Linked DNA regions of Homo sapiens: region 2 is linked to region 1. The links come from fine-mapping of genetic effects on gene expression. Tissue or cell type: whole blood. Region 1 holds a variant in brackets; the other region holds the start of a gene. All regions are shown on one strand. Distances are from middle to middle.

Region 1 (8,183 bases):
CATCTCTCTGGGCCCCAAGTCAGAGAATCTGATTCTGTGCACCTAAGGGGGTGAGGAACTGGGGCTGCGGACCCTGCATCTTTTATAAGCATCTTATGTGAATCTGACACAAGTGCCCCAAAGAGCACCTTAAGAAACACATAAGCATGTTGATTAGTGACTGACCTGAAACACAGTCAACAAATGTTTTTCAAGTAGACAGAGGCAAGCTGATCTGCAGAGGGAAAGGACAGGGCTGAAGACTGGGGAGATGGAGCAAGTGCAGGAGGAATGTGGTAGGGAGTCCATGAGAGATGGATGGAAGGATCGTGTAGCAGCAGAGACCCAGTTTAGAAAACACATATTCCTAGAGGAGACTTTGAGATTGGATTTGTAACTTTCTTCATCAACTCCCAAGAGCCTGGTGGCAGGAGCCAAGCAGACAGATGGTACAGTTTTCCCAGAACTGGAAAACCCCAAACACAGTAGAAGATAGGGGGCACAGGCATCCACCAAGGGGAGAGAGAATCAGGGAACCAGGGCACTGTTGAGAAAGCTGGTCAGGGGTTCAAGTTGGCCAGGAAGATAGTACCTCTACTATCTACCTATAATTTTTTTAAAAAACCCCAAAGTCCTAGGACCCCACATCTCCTCCAACCACTACCTCATTTCTCTGCCCCACCTCGACAGCCAAGCACTTCAAGAGAGTTGTGCCTACACATGTTTTACCCACTTCTCTGCTGTTGTTCACTTCTCGACCCCCACCAAAATGGCTCTTGAGTCTTGACAGTTTCTGCAATGGCCTCCGCGTTGTCCGTGCACACTCCATCATCTTGCACACATTCCTCAGTATCGCAGAGGGAGCTGACCACTCCCTGATTCCTAGAATATTCTCTTCTCATGTCTTTCTGGTTTTATGTATTTTGCCCCAAAAAGTGGCAGCAGGGGAGTTCCCACACAAGAAAGTGCAACACACTATCCTGAAGTGGGGCTGGTTGGGATTCCAAAGAAAGGAGCACTAAGCACCAGTGAGATCAGTCCAAAACATTTATTAGGGGAACTTACTTACAGAAGTGCTGCAGTGATCCCTGCACCGAACAGCGAGAGAAAAGGGATGTTCTGCCCAGGCACAAATGCAGTGAGGGGTCCAGGGTATGGAGTTTTTATGAGGGTTTAAGGAGTTTGGCTCAGGGATGGGGCCAGTTTCTTTCAGTGTTTTAGGCAACAATCTAGATACCTTTGTCAGTGTCTGGGAATGTTCAAGGCCCCAGTTTGGGATTAAGCCTGCTGGGAATAACCCACATTTGGCTGGGTCACAGAGTGGTCAAGGCACTCTGTGATTTTCTATCAAGACACAGAAAGAAAGCGGGAGAGCTGAAGGGACCTACATAAGCACTATTGGCATTTGGGCCATATTTGAGGTTTACAACATAATGTTATGTATAGATAGTATACATAATGATATATATATAGATAGTAAAATGGTTACTGCAGTGAAGTAGGTTAACATCCATCATTGCACATAGTTACTTTTTTTGTGACAAGGGCAACTAAAATCTACTTAACCAAAATCCGTAATACAATTTTTCATCCTCATGCTATACATTAGATCTCTAGACTTGTTCATCCTATATAACTGTTATTTTGTATCCTTTGACTTACATCTTCCTATTTTTTCCTTCTCTACCCCCTTTGATAATCACTCCCTTATCTATCTCTGCATATTTGAGCTCTTTTTTTAAAAAAATGTTTCACATATAAGAGAGATCATGCAATATTTTTCTTTCTCTTTCTGGCTTACTTCACTTAGCATAATGTCTTCCAGGTCCATCTTTGTTGTGGAGAATGGCAAGATCTCTTTCTGTTCTAGGCTGAATAATATTCCATTACACACACAGACACACACACACACATACACACACACACACGTGTACATGTTCTTTCCCCATTTGTACATTTCCTACATTTTCTTTTCCCAAATGAACATGGACATTTAGGTCGTTTCCATATCCTGGCTATTGTTAATAATGTTGCAATGAACATGGGTCCACAGGTGTCTTTATGAGGTAGTGAGTTTATCTCCTCTAGGTAAATACCCAGAAGTCGGATTGCTGTATCATATGATAGTTTATTTTTAGTTGAGGAACCTCCATACCATTTTCCACCATGGCTATACCAATCTACGTTTCCATCAACAGCATACAGGGTTACCTTTTCTCCAGACCCTTACCAACATTTGCTATCTCTTGTCTTTTTGATAATAGCTATCCTTATGGATGTGAGATAATATCTTATAGTGGTTTTAATTTGCATTTCCCTGATGATTAATGATGTTGAACACCTTTTCATATACCTGTTGGCCATTTTTATATTGTCTTTGGAAAAAATGTCTGTTCAGGTTATTTGCCCATTTTTTAGTTGGGTTTTTTTGTTTTTCTGCTATTGAGTTTTAACAGTTATTTACAAATTTTAGATATTAACTCCTTATCAGATATGTGAAATGCAGTTTTTTGTTTGTTTGTTTTTTCAGTTCGTAGTTTTCCTTTTCTTTCTTTCTTTTTTCTGTGTGAGACAGGGTCTCACTCTGTCACCCAGGCTGGAGTGCAGTGGCATAATAATAGCTCACTGCAGCCCCAAACTCCTGGGCTCAAGTGATCCTCCTGCCTGGGTCTCCTGAGTAGTTGGGACTACAGGTGCATGCCACTATGTCTGGATGATTTAAAAAAAATTTTTTTAGAGATGGAGTCTCACTGTGTTGCCCAGGCTATGCCTTTTCATTTTGTTGTTTGTTTCCTTTGCTGTGAAGAAGGTTTTTAGTTTCATGTAGTTCCATTTATTTATTTTATTTTTGTAGCATGAACTGTTGGTGTGATATCCAAAAAAATTATTACAAAGGCCAATGTTGAGGAGGTTTTCTGCTATTTTCTCTTCTAGGAGATTTATGATTTCTGAGCCAGATAATTCTTTGTTGTTGGCAGCTGCCCTGTGTCCTCTGGGATGGTTGGCAGCACCCCTGGCCCCTGGCCCCACCAGTTGTGATAACCAAAAATGTTTCCAGATATTGTCTGATTCTGATGTCCCCTAGAGAACAAGATCATCCCCATTGAGATCTGCTTCTCTAAATGATGCACTCTCCAAACTCTGTCCTGTAACCTTTTCTGTCCTTTCTCTGCACAATTAGACTCATCCGTTCCATGGCTTTGAGTACCATCTGCGTGATAATGACTCCCATTCATGCTCCACGTTGAGATTTGTGGCCCACTTTGATGTTCTAGACCCTGGGCTAAATTAAGGTAAATTAAGCCTGGGGCTTTTCAAATTAGACAGAGGGAATGTAAGCCCCTGTTCTACTCTTGCTGTGTAACTTTAACTCTTTTAACCTTTGTTTCTCTGTCTGAAAAACAAATAATAAAGATGTCAAAGCTGTAAAGATGATCATTAGAGTCCTTGGCACATAGTAAGTTGCTAAGTATTATTATAACATTCATAATTCTGATCTCAATGCCTTCAGGCTATGCACAAAGGGCTTCTGGACTTAGGGTCATTCAATAGAATGTTATAGACTGTTGAAAGTTCAACTCTAGAGCCTGAGAGACCTGGGTTCAAATCCTGAATCTACAATTCTGCTCTATGACCTCTCTAAGGCTCGGTTTCTTCCTGCTTGGAAAAGGGGAATAATAATATTACCCACTTTGGAGGGTGAATCAAATGAGATCATCCTAGGAAAATCAATTAACATGATGTCTAACATACCAGTACTTAATAAACATTAGTAATTATTATTAGGGTAACATTAGAGAAGCTGATCTTTAACTGAATCTCAAGGGCTATAGAAAGAGCAGTCTCGGCAGAGCATGAATAATGGGACAGGGTAAGGAAAAGTGAGCTATAATCTGGGAATGACAAGGAGTTCTGGATTGCTAGTGCAAGGTTAGGGCTTGAGATGAAACTAATGAATTGTCATCTAAATGCCCTTCCACGCCAGTTTGGGACTATGGGCTTTATCCTTTTAGTACCTGCTAGCAGAAATTGTTTTTTGGTTTTTTTTGGCAAGGGGAGAGGGACACCAAAGAGTTTTAGATTAGGCAACAACATGATGATTAAATTTTCAACTTAGGAAGAGAGCTCTCATCAATATGGAAGAGCTTGGAGAAG[A/G]TAAGAACAGAGGCAGGAAGGCTGGGTAGGAGATTGTGGCATGAACTCCAGTGAGAGATCAGGAAGGCTGCTCATCAGGAGATGAATGCCACAGACATCAAAGAGCTAACAACTGATGAGTTGAATGCAGGGGGCTGAGTAGGACTCTGAGGCTTTTTGCTTGGTCGCACGTGGTGGACCGGTGGTCCATTGAACCCTCTGCTGTCTCCTCATCCCACCACTGCCCTCTCCTCTCTCCTCTTCCCTCCTTAGCTAAGCTCATCATCTCAGTAACACTTCTGCCATAGCCCATAACTTCTTTGCCTCTTGTCCTCACACCAATCTAGCAAAACTCCAGCCCTGAATGAACACATCTTTTCTCTTCTTTGTGCTTACACCTGAGCCCTGCACCTGGAAAAAGTCACATTTCAGTGCAGATTGGCCAGTTCACATCATGCTAATTTCCTAGAGCTGCTGTAACAAATTGCCACACATTTGGTGGCTTAAAACAACAGAAATTTAATTATCTTACAATTCTGGGGTCCAGAAATTCAAAATTCATCTCACTGGGCCAAAATTAAGGTGTCAACAGGACCACACTCCCTCTGGGGGCTCTAGGGCAGTGGTCCCAAACCTTTTTGGCACCAGGGACTAGTTTCCTGGAGAACAGTTTTTCCATGGGCTGCAGTAGGGGGAATGGTTTCAGGATAAAACTGTTCTACCTCAGATCATCAGGCATTAGATTCTCATAAGGAGTACACAACCTAGATCCCTTGCATGTGCAGTTCACCATAGGGTTTGCACTTTTATGAGAATTGAATGCCGCCACTTACTTGACAGGAGGTGTATTAGGGTTTTCTAGAGGGACAGAACTGATAGGAGATATATATGTGAATTTATTAAGAATTAACTCACACAATCACAGGGTCCCACAATCAGCTGTCTGCAAGCTGAGGAGCAAGGAGAGCCAGTCCAAGTCCCAAAACTGAAGAACTTGGAGTCTGATGTTCAAGGATAGGAAGAATCCAGCATGGGAGAAAGATGTAGTCTGGGAGGCTAGGCCAGTCTCTCCTTTTCACATTTTCTGCCTGCTTTATATTCATTGACAGCTAATTAGATGGTGCCCACACAGCTGATTAGATGGTGCCCACCCAGATTAAGGGTGGGTCTGCCTTCCCCAGTCCACTGACTCAAATGTTAATCTCCTTTCGCAACACCCTCACAGACACACCCAGGGTCAATACTTTGCATCCTTCAATCCAATCAAGTTGACACTCAGTATTAACCATCACAGGAGGTGAAGCTCAGGCGGTAATGCTGGCTCACCCCGATCTCCTGCTGTGTGGCCCAGCTCCTAACAGGCCACAGACTGGGGGCTGGGGACTCCTGCTCTAGGGACGATTTGTTCCTTGCCTCTTGCGGCTTCTGGTGACTGTCAGCAGGCTTGTGTGTGGCTGCATCACTCTACTCTCTGCCTCCATCCTCACGTGGCCTTCTCCTTGTCTCTGTCTCAAAGCTCCCTCTGCCACTCTCTTTTAAGGATACATATGATTGCATTTAAGGCTTCCAGATAGTCTAGAATAAACATCTCCTCTCAAGATCCTTAAATAAATCATATCTTTTGCCATATAAGGTACTATTCACACTTTCTGGGGATTAGAAGTGAACATGCAGTAGTCCCTTTGTATCTGCAGGTTCTGCATCCACTGATTCAGCCAAAAATATTGGAAAAATAAAAATTAAAAATTAATACAGATTTTAAAAATACAGTATAACAACTATTTACAAAGTATTACATCACATTAGATATTATAAGTAATCTGGAGATGCTTTAAAGTATACAGAAGGAGTATATGGGAGGAGTAGCTGTGGATTTTGATATTCACAGGATGATGCTGGAACCAACCCCCGACAAATACCAAGGAATGATTGTATTTCGCGGGGACATTTTTCTTCCTACCATTTACACTTATGCAGGACCACTGACCTTGGAGGGCCCTTGACCTGCCTGGCAATCTGACCAAATTACTCTGGAAGGCTTGTCCTCCCACTTTCCCTAATGCTGATTCCTTTCATTCCTGACCCACCTATGGGTCACATCACTTTTCCCACATCATTCTCAACAAGTGACCTTGTTGTGTTCTCTATGGGGGGAAAAGAAAAGAAAGAAAAAGAAATCCCTGGACCTGGACCAGAATTTCTTAACTTGTTGCTAAAGTTAATAAACCTACCTGCATCTTTCCTCACTTCTTCTCCTACTAAAATAATGGATCTCTCCATCCCTGTCCTGAGACCATCTCTACTCAGGCTCTGGATACCACTCTCTCCTGCTTCCTCAGGAACCTTAAATGGCCAATCACCCCACCTTTGTTTTGTAGAGTCAGCCTTTTCTTCTTGATAAGGTCCTTCCCTTCAGCTCAAGTTTTAAAACTCTTCCTTCAGGAATTTTCCTTCTTAAAAGAACAATTTAAAAACCTTACAACAAACAAAATTCCACCCCCTGGCCAATCCATCACTAAGTCCTGCTGATGGTACCTTGTAAGTCTTTCTAATTCACCAACTTCTCCCCTTCTCAGCCTGCTATGAGTCCAGTCTGTCATCACATACTCCTGGACGACCATAGTAACCTTTCTGCATCCATTTTTGGCACCTCACAATTGCTCTGTTAAGCTGCCTTCAGTTGTGTGTGATTGGTATGTGAGCTCCATGAGGTCAGGGACTTAGTTCCATTCATGTGTTCCCTGTGTCCTCATCATCTTGAAAAGGGCCAGAAACACAGTAGCTGTTCAATAAATGTTTGTTGAAGGTATTCACATAATTTATCACTAATTTCAGGAGGAAGACAAAGTTCCTTAACAGCCCAAAAGGCCCAGAAAGGCCTGACCCCTACTCATCTCTCCACCTCATCTTGTGTCATCTTCCCTTGTTCCCTGAGCTCTAGACACATTGGTCTTCTATGAACGCTCCCAGTTTTCTCCTGCCCCAGGGTATGTGTAGAGAAATGTTTCCTCATTGTTTAGAACATTCCCCTCTGCCCCAACCCAACTTTTCCTAATAAATACCACTCAGCCTTCAGATCTCAGCTCATATATAGCAAGTTGCTTCCTTGGAAAATCTTTCCTTAGCACCATTATATGCTCTGTTATGTTCTCGTTGCACATATATCTGTCATAGAAATTTCCCAGTAAGAACTGTGTTCATATTTGGTGACTATTTGATTCATGTCTGTCTTAGTCCATTCAGACTGCTATAACAAAATATCTTAGACTCAGTGATTTACAAACAACAGAATTTATTGCTTACAATTCTGGAGGCTGAGCAGTCCAAGATCAAGGCACCAGCAGATTTGTTGTCTGGTAAGGGCCTGTTCCCCATACATGGCACCTTCTTGCTGCATCTTCATGTGGAGGAAGGGTAAGAGAGCTCACTCAGGTCTCTTTTATAAGGACACTAATTCCATTTATGAGGGTGGAGCCCTCATCACTTAATCACTTCCCAAAGGTTCCACCACTTAATACTATCACATTGGCTATTAGATTCAACATAAGAACTTGATGGAGGGGGCTGTCAACATTCAGACTGTATCAATGTCTGTCTTTCCCATCAAATGAGGACAGGGGCCACTATATTCCCAGTGCTTAGCATACTGTCTGACACACAGAGATGCTCAATAGGTATGCACTGCAGGAACAAATGAAGGGATAATGGAATAATGGCAAGGCTGAGATCAGTTGCAGGAGGAGAAGGTTTAGTGGAAGGGTCACAACTCAGTTTTGCCCATGTTGGAGGGCCCCACAGCTAATTCAGCTGGAGAGGTACACTCTTGTTTGGGAATCTGGGCTGGGAGCTAAGGACAGAGGGCAGGCTGGATATCTAGACTTAGGTGGTTGGCAACCCTGTAGTAGATGCAAAAGATGGGCCATATAAGAGGATTCATGTCTAGAGATGAGAGGGGGATGGGATTAAGGGCAGACTGGGAGCTCAGAAAGGAAGACCCACAGATTAAAAAAAGATGAGCTAAGTGTAGAGATGTAAAGGAGGGACGAGGTTGAGGGGCACGTGAAGCAGCA
Region 2 (8,183 bases), 43 kb before region 1:
CCCATAGACATCCCCTACCCTTCTGGAGCTTAGAATTTAGAATGGAGACAAATACTGAACAAATGTAAAATTTTAAACATCAAACTTATAAATCAATGGGTCATTATAAATCTTAATATTAAAAGAAGCCAGGTGTGGTGGCTCATGCCTGTAGTCCCAACACTTTGGGAGGCTGAGGCAGGAAGATTGCTTGAGCCCAAGAGTTTGAGACCAACCTGAGCAACATAGGAAGACCCTGCCTCAAGAAGAAAGAAGAAAGAGGAAAGGAGAAAGGAGAAAGAAGAAGGAGGAGGAGGAGAGGGAGGAGGAAGAAGGAAGAAGAAGGAGGAGGAGGAGGAGGAGATTAAAAGAAAAGGTACTCATGAGCTTCAGCAGAGTTTTGGGGGCTGGATCTATTCTAGGAAATCAGAAAGGCCTTCTTTGGGGAGGCAGTTTTGCACTGAGATCTGAAGAGTACATAGGAGTTGGCCAATGGAGAGTGGTGGCTAGGAGAGACCAAAGAGCATGATAGGATTCCAGGCAGAGAGAACAGCACAGGCAAAGCCCATGAGAGAAGAGCTGCATGGCTGGAGAAGCAGATCAAGCAGAGCCTTGGAGGCCTGGCTGAAGATTCTGTCTTTATTCTGAGAGCCCTGAAAAACCACCAAGAAAAAATGTTAACCTCAGGATTGACATTCAAATCTGCATTTTTAAAAAGATCACTTGGGCTTCAGTGCAGAAGACAGATGGAAGGAGAGCACAAGTAGACAAGGGCAACCCAGTTAGGAAGATGAGAGAGGATGTCAACACAGACAGGGGTAGTGGTGGAGAAGAGCGTGAAACTTGATGTGGTGATGGATCGGATGAGTGGAGAAGACAGCAGAGGTCTGAGTGACAGCCAAGCTGGTTTAGGAAAACCTAGCTCATGTAGTGGGATTGGAGCTTGGTGAGCTGGTTAGAGCCTGCCGTCATAGCCCAGATGATAGGGCGAACACTGTGTACTGGAAAGTACCTCATTTGGTGTTGGGGATGCCTGTTTTAAATCCTGGCTCTTTCCCTTAATAGCCATGGAACATTACCTCAGCAGGTAATTTCATAGGCTCCTAATCTGAACAATGGGAGTGCGGAGGTGAATTGGGACTGCCTACTTCCCATAGTTTTCCTGTCAATATCCAATAAAAAGTTAAATATTGCATTCCTGCCTACTTCATGCCCACCCATCTCCAACTTAGATTTGAACCTTTTGTAGATGAATAGAGGTTCAAGAGCACAGATTTGAGCTTTCAGACATAAAATAAGCTTTGTGAAGACAGGGGTCACAATTTATTCATTTCTGTAGTTTCCTGCCCTCTGAGATAAGATCAGGTACACTTTCAAGAACCACTTATTTTAGTTTGTAGCATACATCACAATTATAATTTTAAAAGATTCATATAATTATGTATTTAATATTTGCCTTTGCCACAGGCCTGTAAAATCCTCAAAGGCAAGTAACATATCTGTGTTTTGTATCCAAGCACTGAGCACGTGGAGGGTCTTTGTCATGAATGAATGGATGGATAGAAGGATGCATGGATGGATGGATGGATGAATTTTTGTTCCGTCTTCTACCTACCGGTCAGCACAGAGTCTAGCTCCAAATCTACACTTAATGAAAGTTTGCTGGATGAATGGGACCGTGCAACTTGGAGTGCAGCATGAGCTCTGAGCCAGTCGAGTGAAGATGCAGACAATTCCCTCAGCACTCAGACATGGATCTGAGCCTCACCTCAAAAAGGAGGGCCGATCAGCTGGATCAGGTGCTGCTAGGGTCAAGAAGGGCTAGGGATGAGAGAAGAGCATAATTGGCTTCAGCAAGGGGTTACTTTCAGGTGACCTCTGAGAGAAGGCGTCCAGTTAATAGTGGCAGTGGGAATTCCAGCACAAGCACTAAGGAGTAAGTGGGCAGGCAGGGAGGAATGGAGATCTCCCATGCACCTAGCGCCCTGGGCCTGTTTGTAGCATTATGAAAGAGAAAACCCTGACCTGGAAAGCAAAGGAGATTGCTTGCTAATTGTAGGCACTTGAGGTGTGTCGAAGGCCCTGGGCAAAGAGAAGACGAGGAAACCAAAGCTTCTGAGGGCACCTGGGGAGGGATGTTTGTGTGCACTGAGAGGCAGGGGGCTTATGGTATCCCCAAGCGGGTGAGGGAGCAGGCGCCACTAGAGACCAACTAGAGTGTTTTATATGGGTCATATCATTTACTTCTAGCATATCACCCCACTACCTCTAAGAAGGATGTACTGGCACCCACCCCCACTTCCTTGTTCTCCAGAGCAGGAAACAAGCTTGGAGAGTGCGATAACTAGCCCAAGCTTCACAATGGGTGAGTGGCAGGACTGAGGTTTGATTCGGGTCTCTTCCCAGAGAGACACTGGGAGAGATTCTTGCCCCAGGTCTTTTCCCTTCAGGCCCTCAGGCTCAGCACCTCTCTGAACATCTGTCCCTGGGGAGTGAGAATCTGAACTAAAATGTAAGCCAAGAAAACACAGGCTCTTCATTGAATCTTTGGAAACTCCTTTCCTGGGCTGTAGGAGGACCTTCCTGAGCCTTAGGCACTTTTGCCTTTGCTGGCTCTTTCCTCCAAGTCAAGCATATTTTATGACTGTGGAGGTATAAATACAAATATATTAACATTATATAGTAAAACATTTTGTTTGACATAAATTTTTTCTTCTGATTTTTACAGAAAACATTTTCATAGATCTCCAAAAGTATCGTGGGCCCTAAGCGCTGTAGCTAAGTCGTTTCTCCTTTCTCAGCCTCCAGTCTGACATGTTCCACTATGGCCTTGGGAAGAGCAATGGGCCCGGAGTCGCCGCATCTAACCCTGCTGTAACTGGTCGCAAGTCACAGTTTGCTCATCTATAAAGTGAGCGAAAGTAATGTAATCTTTATTGGGAGTAGGGAACATGAAGGCGAGTCGATACAGTAAGTAAGCCGCCAAGCATATTGCTAGGCACAGAGCAGGTGTGCAACAAAAGTTATTTCTCAGGCTTTCCCTCCTCTGAGCGCCGTCCTCCAGAGGGTCCGGAGTGTAGCTGGGGGTTGGAGCAGCAGCCTCCTAGGCGATGGGACAGAGCCCACAGGGTCCGGTATGCCACGGTTTCTTCGTCAGACCCTGGGAATCCAACGTCGCAAAATAAACACGGCCGCGCCGCTAATCGCCAGTTCGGAGGAAACAAAACAGCGCTGCGCTGGGGGATCTGGGCAAAATCAGCCCTCCCTCCTCCCGCTCCTTCGCCGCGGCCCTCCCCTCCTCGCGCTGCTCTCGTTCGCTTGGCTCAGCTCAGCTCAGCTCAGCGCAGCTCCGCGGCCGCCAAGCCGAGGCGGGCACGGTCTCCGAGTCGCGGACGCCAGCTCCGAGCTCCCTCTCTCCGCCGCGCCTCCGCCAGGTCGCGCCTTCGTCGGGACCACTTCGGGCAGGAGTCGCGTGGCGAAGGCCTGCGGCCGCGGCACAAAGTTGGGGGCCGCGAAGATGAGGCTGTCCCCGGCGCCCCTGAAGCTGAGCCGGACTCCGGCACTGCTGGCCCTGGCGCTGCCCCTGGCCGCGGCGCTGGCCTTCTCCGACGAGACCCTGGACAAAGTGCCCAAGTCAGAGGGCTACTGCAGCCGTATCCTGCGCGCCCAGGGCACGCGGCGCGAGGGCTACACCGAGTTCAGCCTCCGCGTGGAGGGCGACCCCGACTTCTACAAGCCGGGAACCAGCTACCGCGGTAAGTGGCCGCCCGGCGTGGCATTAGGAGAGCGGGACCCGGTCCCCGGAGGGCGCCGACCTCGCGGTGCCGGAGGAGGGCGCGCGGTCTCCGGGCGCGTGGCGCGGGTGCAGCCCGGCAAGGGCCCTTCTGTCCTGGCTGCCCTCGGCCCTTGCAGTCGCGAGCTCGGCGCGGATCATAATCCAGCGTCCCGGGCCGTCGCGGGGGCCGCAGCCAGGAGAGGCACCCCGCGTTTCCGACGCGCGGTTCCCAGGCGGAGGATGTAACTGAGCCACACGTCACGCCGGCCTGACTGCAAGGGAGGCTCGCTTCTCCCCCGGCCGTCTGCAGGAGGGAAGTAAAACTGCCTTTCTCCAAATCGGTCTGGAGGGGACCCAGGCTTCTCTTGGTCGGGTCCCGGGCAAGGCAGCCACTCCAGCTTTCCCCGCTCAGTCCCTGAAGGAGAGGGTACCCGATTCTCAAAGACTGGCCCTGGGCGGGACAGCCACTCCGGCTTCCCTGGATAGGTCCCTTCAGGAGAAGGGACTTTGGCTTCTCCCTAACCGGTCCCGGGGTGCGGGAAGGAGGGGCAGGGACAGCCTAAAGCTCCTCGAAAGGGTCCTTGGAAAGAACCCCAAATTATTCTCTCGTGGTCCCAGACGAGATAGAGTATCTTGGGTTTCCAGAACAGGTTCCCAGTGGGGACAGGGTCCTCAAAGAGCTTGGGGTAAGCTCCGAGCTGCAAGGGGAATTGGATGAAGATGGAAAGAGAAGCCCCGATGCCCGAGGCCTGCTCCCTGGAGGCCGGGGAACCTTGGCTCCGGCAGCTCGGAGTCTCCACGTCCCAGGGATGTCGCGCCTACGCCGCTCGGCTGAGAGTGGGGTTTCGGGAGCTCAGGGAGGAGGTGTCCAAGCAGGTGAGAGCCTCCTAGGCGGGACAGGCAGTTCGACCAGCACCGATCTGAAGACGCCTGACTCTGTCCCCACGCCCGCCACCTCGCTCCTCAGCAGGGTCATCTCCCCAGACATCGTTTCCCCGTGCAGCAGCAGCCGCTCTCCGGGTGGGGGACAGGTAACCAGGAAGGGAAGCGAGCCTGTCTGGCCTCACCTTAGCTCCCGCCAGGGAGCGTGTCCTCTCACCCTCGCCCCTTCATAAGTCAGCTCTGGTGCTAAGCAGGGATGAGCGGGTCACTGGGGCACCTGGTGGGGCAAATGGGCTCCCAGCTGCTGTACTTTCCTCCTCGCCTTCCCAGTTCCCCAGAGAGCCTTGGACGGAAGCGGTGGGAGCAACACAGGAGAAAGTCTGGGGCAGCGTCAGCGGGCGCCAGGGTCACGCCGGAGACCAAAGCCAGGGGCCACCCTTCTTGGAGCGCTTTTCCCCCTTTCCCGGGTTTGTGTCCCCGACTTTCTCCACCCGGAGCTACCCAAAGCCGGCTCCTTGGTGCCCTTGGCACCTTGGCGTGCTGAGCACTTTGCGAGGAACAGTCTGACCCCGGCGCGCAGCTCCGCGGGATCCTGGGTACTCCACGAAGAAAGATTCTGGGCGGAGAACACCCCGCCCAGCCCGGGAGGGAGCGCGCGGCTTGGCACCGCGGCTAGAGCGAGCCGCGCCGACGGGCGGCGACTGCCACTCGGTGCAGCCGGGAGGCGGCCGATCCTCCCTGTGGACCGCAGGGAAGCGGGTATGACTTCAGTGGCCTATTCGGCCCTCCCCAAAACTGAGGACCTGAGTTCACAGGGGAAACTGTCCCCGCTCCACGTAGCAGAGAAAGAAGTGGCTCTGGAGTCCAACAGACTTGGGTTTACTCGCTGTGTGACCTTGTGCAAGTCATTTAATTTCTCTGCACCTATTTCCTAGCTGGAAAAAAAAAAAAGCTGTTTATCCACCCTCTCTTGGTGGTAGGGAGTAAATGAGTTTACAAAGGTGAGTGTGCCTGAGCTAAAAGAGATTCCTAATAAGCCTAACAGTTGAATGTGAGGCCTTTATTGGTTTACTAATGGAGGTAGGTTCTTGATCAGATTTTTGTTTTTGAAGAGTGTTGTGCGTTTGAAAGCAGGTTTCCTCAGCTCTCCTCCAGTCCCATTCATCTACCAGTGGTTATTTGGGTCCTCATGAATTAATTGAATGAATGAATGAGGTATTTTTTCATATCAGGAGCCTTGCCTAAGACTGTTGCTAATGCAAGCCCAGGAAGATTTTTTCAGTGACTTAGACTAGTCTGAGGTTCAGGCCAAGTGTACCCAGCGTCTCTTTTCACACTAATCCTCCGTGTTTTAGTTGAGCATTGGCAGCTGGTGGCCCTAGCACTGGGAAGGAGATACAGCTGGTATTCACGGGGCCAAAGAGGTTTCAGAACTACCTAAACGTCCAGGGCCAGCAGGTGGGGAACTGGGACTGGATAGGGAGTGTCCTGGACTTTCACCCTACAGGCTACTCCTGCCTAAACAGCCATCTGGACTTTGACACCCCAACTCAGGCTATAGATTGGGCAATCATCTTTTCTCCCTTCTTATGGCTAAAAGACCTTGGAAGAGATCTTGCAGGAACCATGCTGAGGTTTTCCAAGTAAATATCCTGCAATTAGCAAACCTGATTCTGCCACTCAAAGTCCGAAAGAAAAGGTACTGGCCTAGTTTGTGACATTTTCTGTTGGCTCCTTCTTTCTTAGAATAATTATGTTAAAAGTAACTCAAACACATTCTGCTCATTGTCCTGACTTAAGGCTGTGAAGCTGGCATTCCCCTGGTGTTCTATTTGCTTTTTAATTTTTTCATGAATTAGGATTCCTCACAATCCTTGGAATCAATGACTTGTTTTCCTGCCTCAAATCTTTGTCCACAGTATTCCAGTTCATCCCCAAGCAGCTTCTGTTCTTTGTGCCTGCTGTCTAAGTACAGTCTTTAGGTACTCTAGACCGGAATAAAATGGTCACTATTAAAAAAGACTGAAACATGGAGTTTCTTCCCCAAAACCTGAATCCAGTTGAGATCATTATTTTGTCTTTTCCAAGTTGTTAGTATTATATTGATTTCCTTTTCTTTCCCACCACTTCTCTCTACTCTCCCTCCCTCTTCCCACAGTCCCCCCTCCCTCCAACGGCAATAATTGTGCTTTAGAAAGCTCTGAAAGGCCTGCTCTGTTTCTGGCCAGGGCCTCCTTTGAAAAGGAGATTACAGTGATTAAAAATAACAAGTTGAGGATCCTCAAGGGGCTTCCCTTATACAGGAGGACAATTCGCAGGACCAGCCTTTCCCAGATCACAATTTCAAGCCAAACAGAAGAAAATCCACTGAAATATTCAAGAATTGATTGAAAATAAAAGAGGCTCTTTTGTCTTACTGGAGGTCTGTTTATTAGGAAAATAAAGTCAGACTCTGGCTAATGAGAGTGGCTTTTCCTAGATGTATTTTAAAGAGACATTTCAAGGAACTTGATGGGAAAAGAATGTCCAGTAGAGGTTTCAAAAGCTGGTCCAACTTCAAGCATAATTGAGGGGTTTATCCTAAACTGGGAGGTTTGGAGACCTCCAAAGCTGCATGGTTTTTCCTTTGTCCCACACTGAGACACACACTGACCACAGGGGTGGACACCTCAGCCTGGTGGAAAGCGCACAGGCTTTGATGTTGGGTGGGTTGGTTTCAGGTCCTCCTTGGTCACATATTCACTGTGTGATCTCAGGAAGCCACTTCACCTCTCTGAGCCAATTTCTCCATCTGTAAAATGAGGGTGTTTTGATTTTTTCCCAGCATTCCTGTGAGAATTAGAAATAATTCATGTCAAAAGAAATTGTCACACAGTGGTTGCTAAAAAAATATGTTATGAGATGATTATTTTGGAAATAGAAAAATACTTAGCAGCAAAGCCCTGGATAAGATATTGTGTTAAGTTCTTCCGACTCATCTCACTTATTCCTTACAGTACTTTGAGGAAGTTTCTGATCGTTACTGTTTTATGGATGAGAAGACTAAACCTCAGAGAAGTTTATTCCTTATCCATGGTCACACAGCTAATAATCAGCAGAATCAGGATACAGTCTCAGGTCTGTCTGACTCCTAAATCTGTGCTCTTAACCAGTCTTATGTGCTGACTCAATGAAATTAGTTGGGAATAGAATGAAATTCACTCAGCTACCCTCAGCCTTCTGGATGGTGAGCCTTCCTTCAAGGAAAACAGAACAACAAATCAAGATAGTAACTGACATCTCTCAGGAGAATTACTTTATATTACTACAAAGTAATATAAAGTGATAAATCCTTATTCACATTTGCTGTTTTCTCTTATTGGCTTCAGTGTTGCATTTCCCCATAAACTAGAGGATTAATTTAGAAACATGAAGAACCTTGTCAGCCTTTGGCCAATTCCTTTTGTTTGTGGGGAAACAAAAACAAATTGGATAGGAAAAAAAAAACCCAGAAAGAAAAAAAAAAAAAGAAAAAACAGATTTGACTGTTGTTTTGTTTTTACATACA

What was found. PIP is the estimated chance that this variant, and not a neighbour inherited with it, causes the effect.
Region 2: it holds the start of SPON1, and the variant in region 1 is fine-mapped to the expression of SPON1 in whole blood (INTERVAL, PIP above 0.99).

The regions. Positions count from the first base shown.
Region 1 is chr11:14,002,278-14,010,460 of GRCh38, forward strand. All of the region lies in intron 2 of SPON1 (spondin 1), which reads left to right. Among named protein-coding and RNA genes, the nearest start is that of SPON1, 44 kb to the left of the region's middle. The variant A/G (reference allele first, on the strand shown) is at 4,135.
Region 2 is chr11:13,959,409-13,967,591 of GRCh38, forward strand. It overlaps SPON1 (spondin 1), which reads left to right and starts at 3,315. Exons shown (of 16, transcript NM_006108.4): 1 at 3,315-3,734. The coding sequence starts at 3,497. It overlaps LOC124902637 (a long non-coding RNA gene), which reads left to right and starts at 3,749. Exons shown (of 2, transcript XR_007062602.1): 1 at 3,749-5,637; 2 at 7,633-8,183. RefSeq lists an enhancer at 6,600-7,118.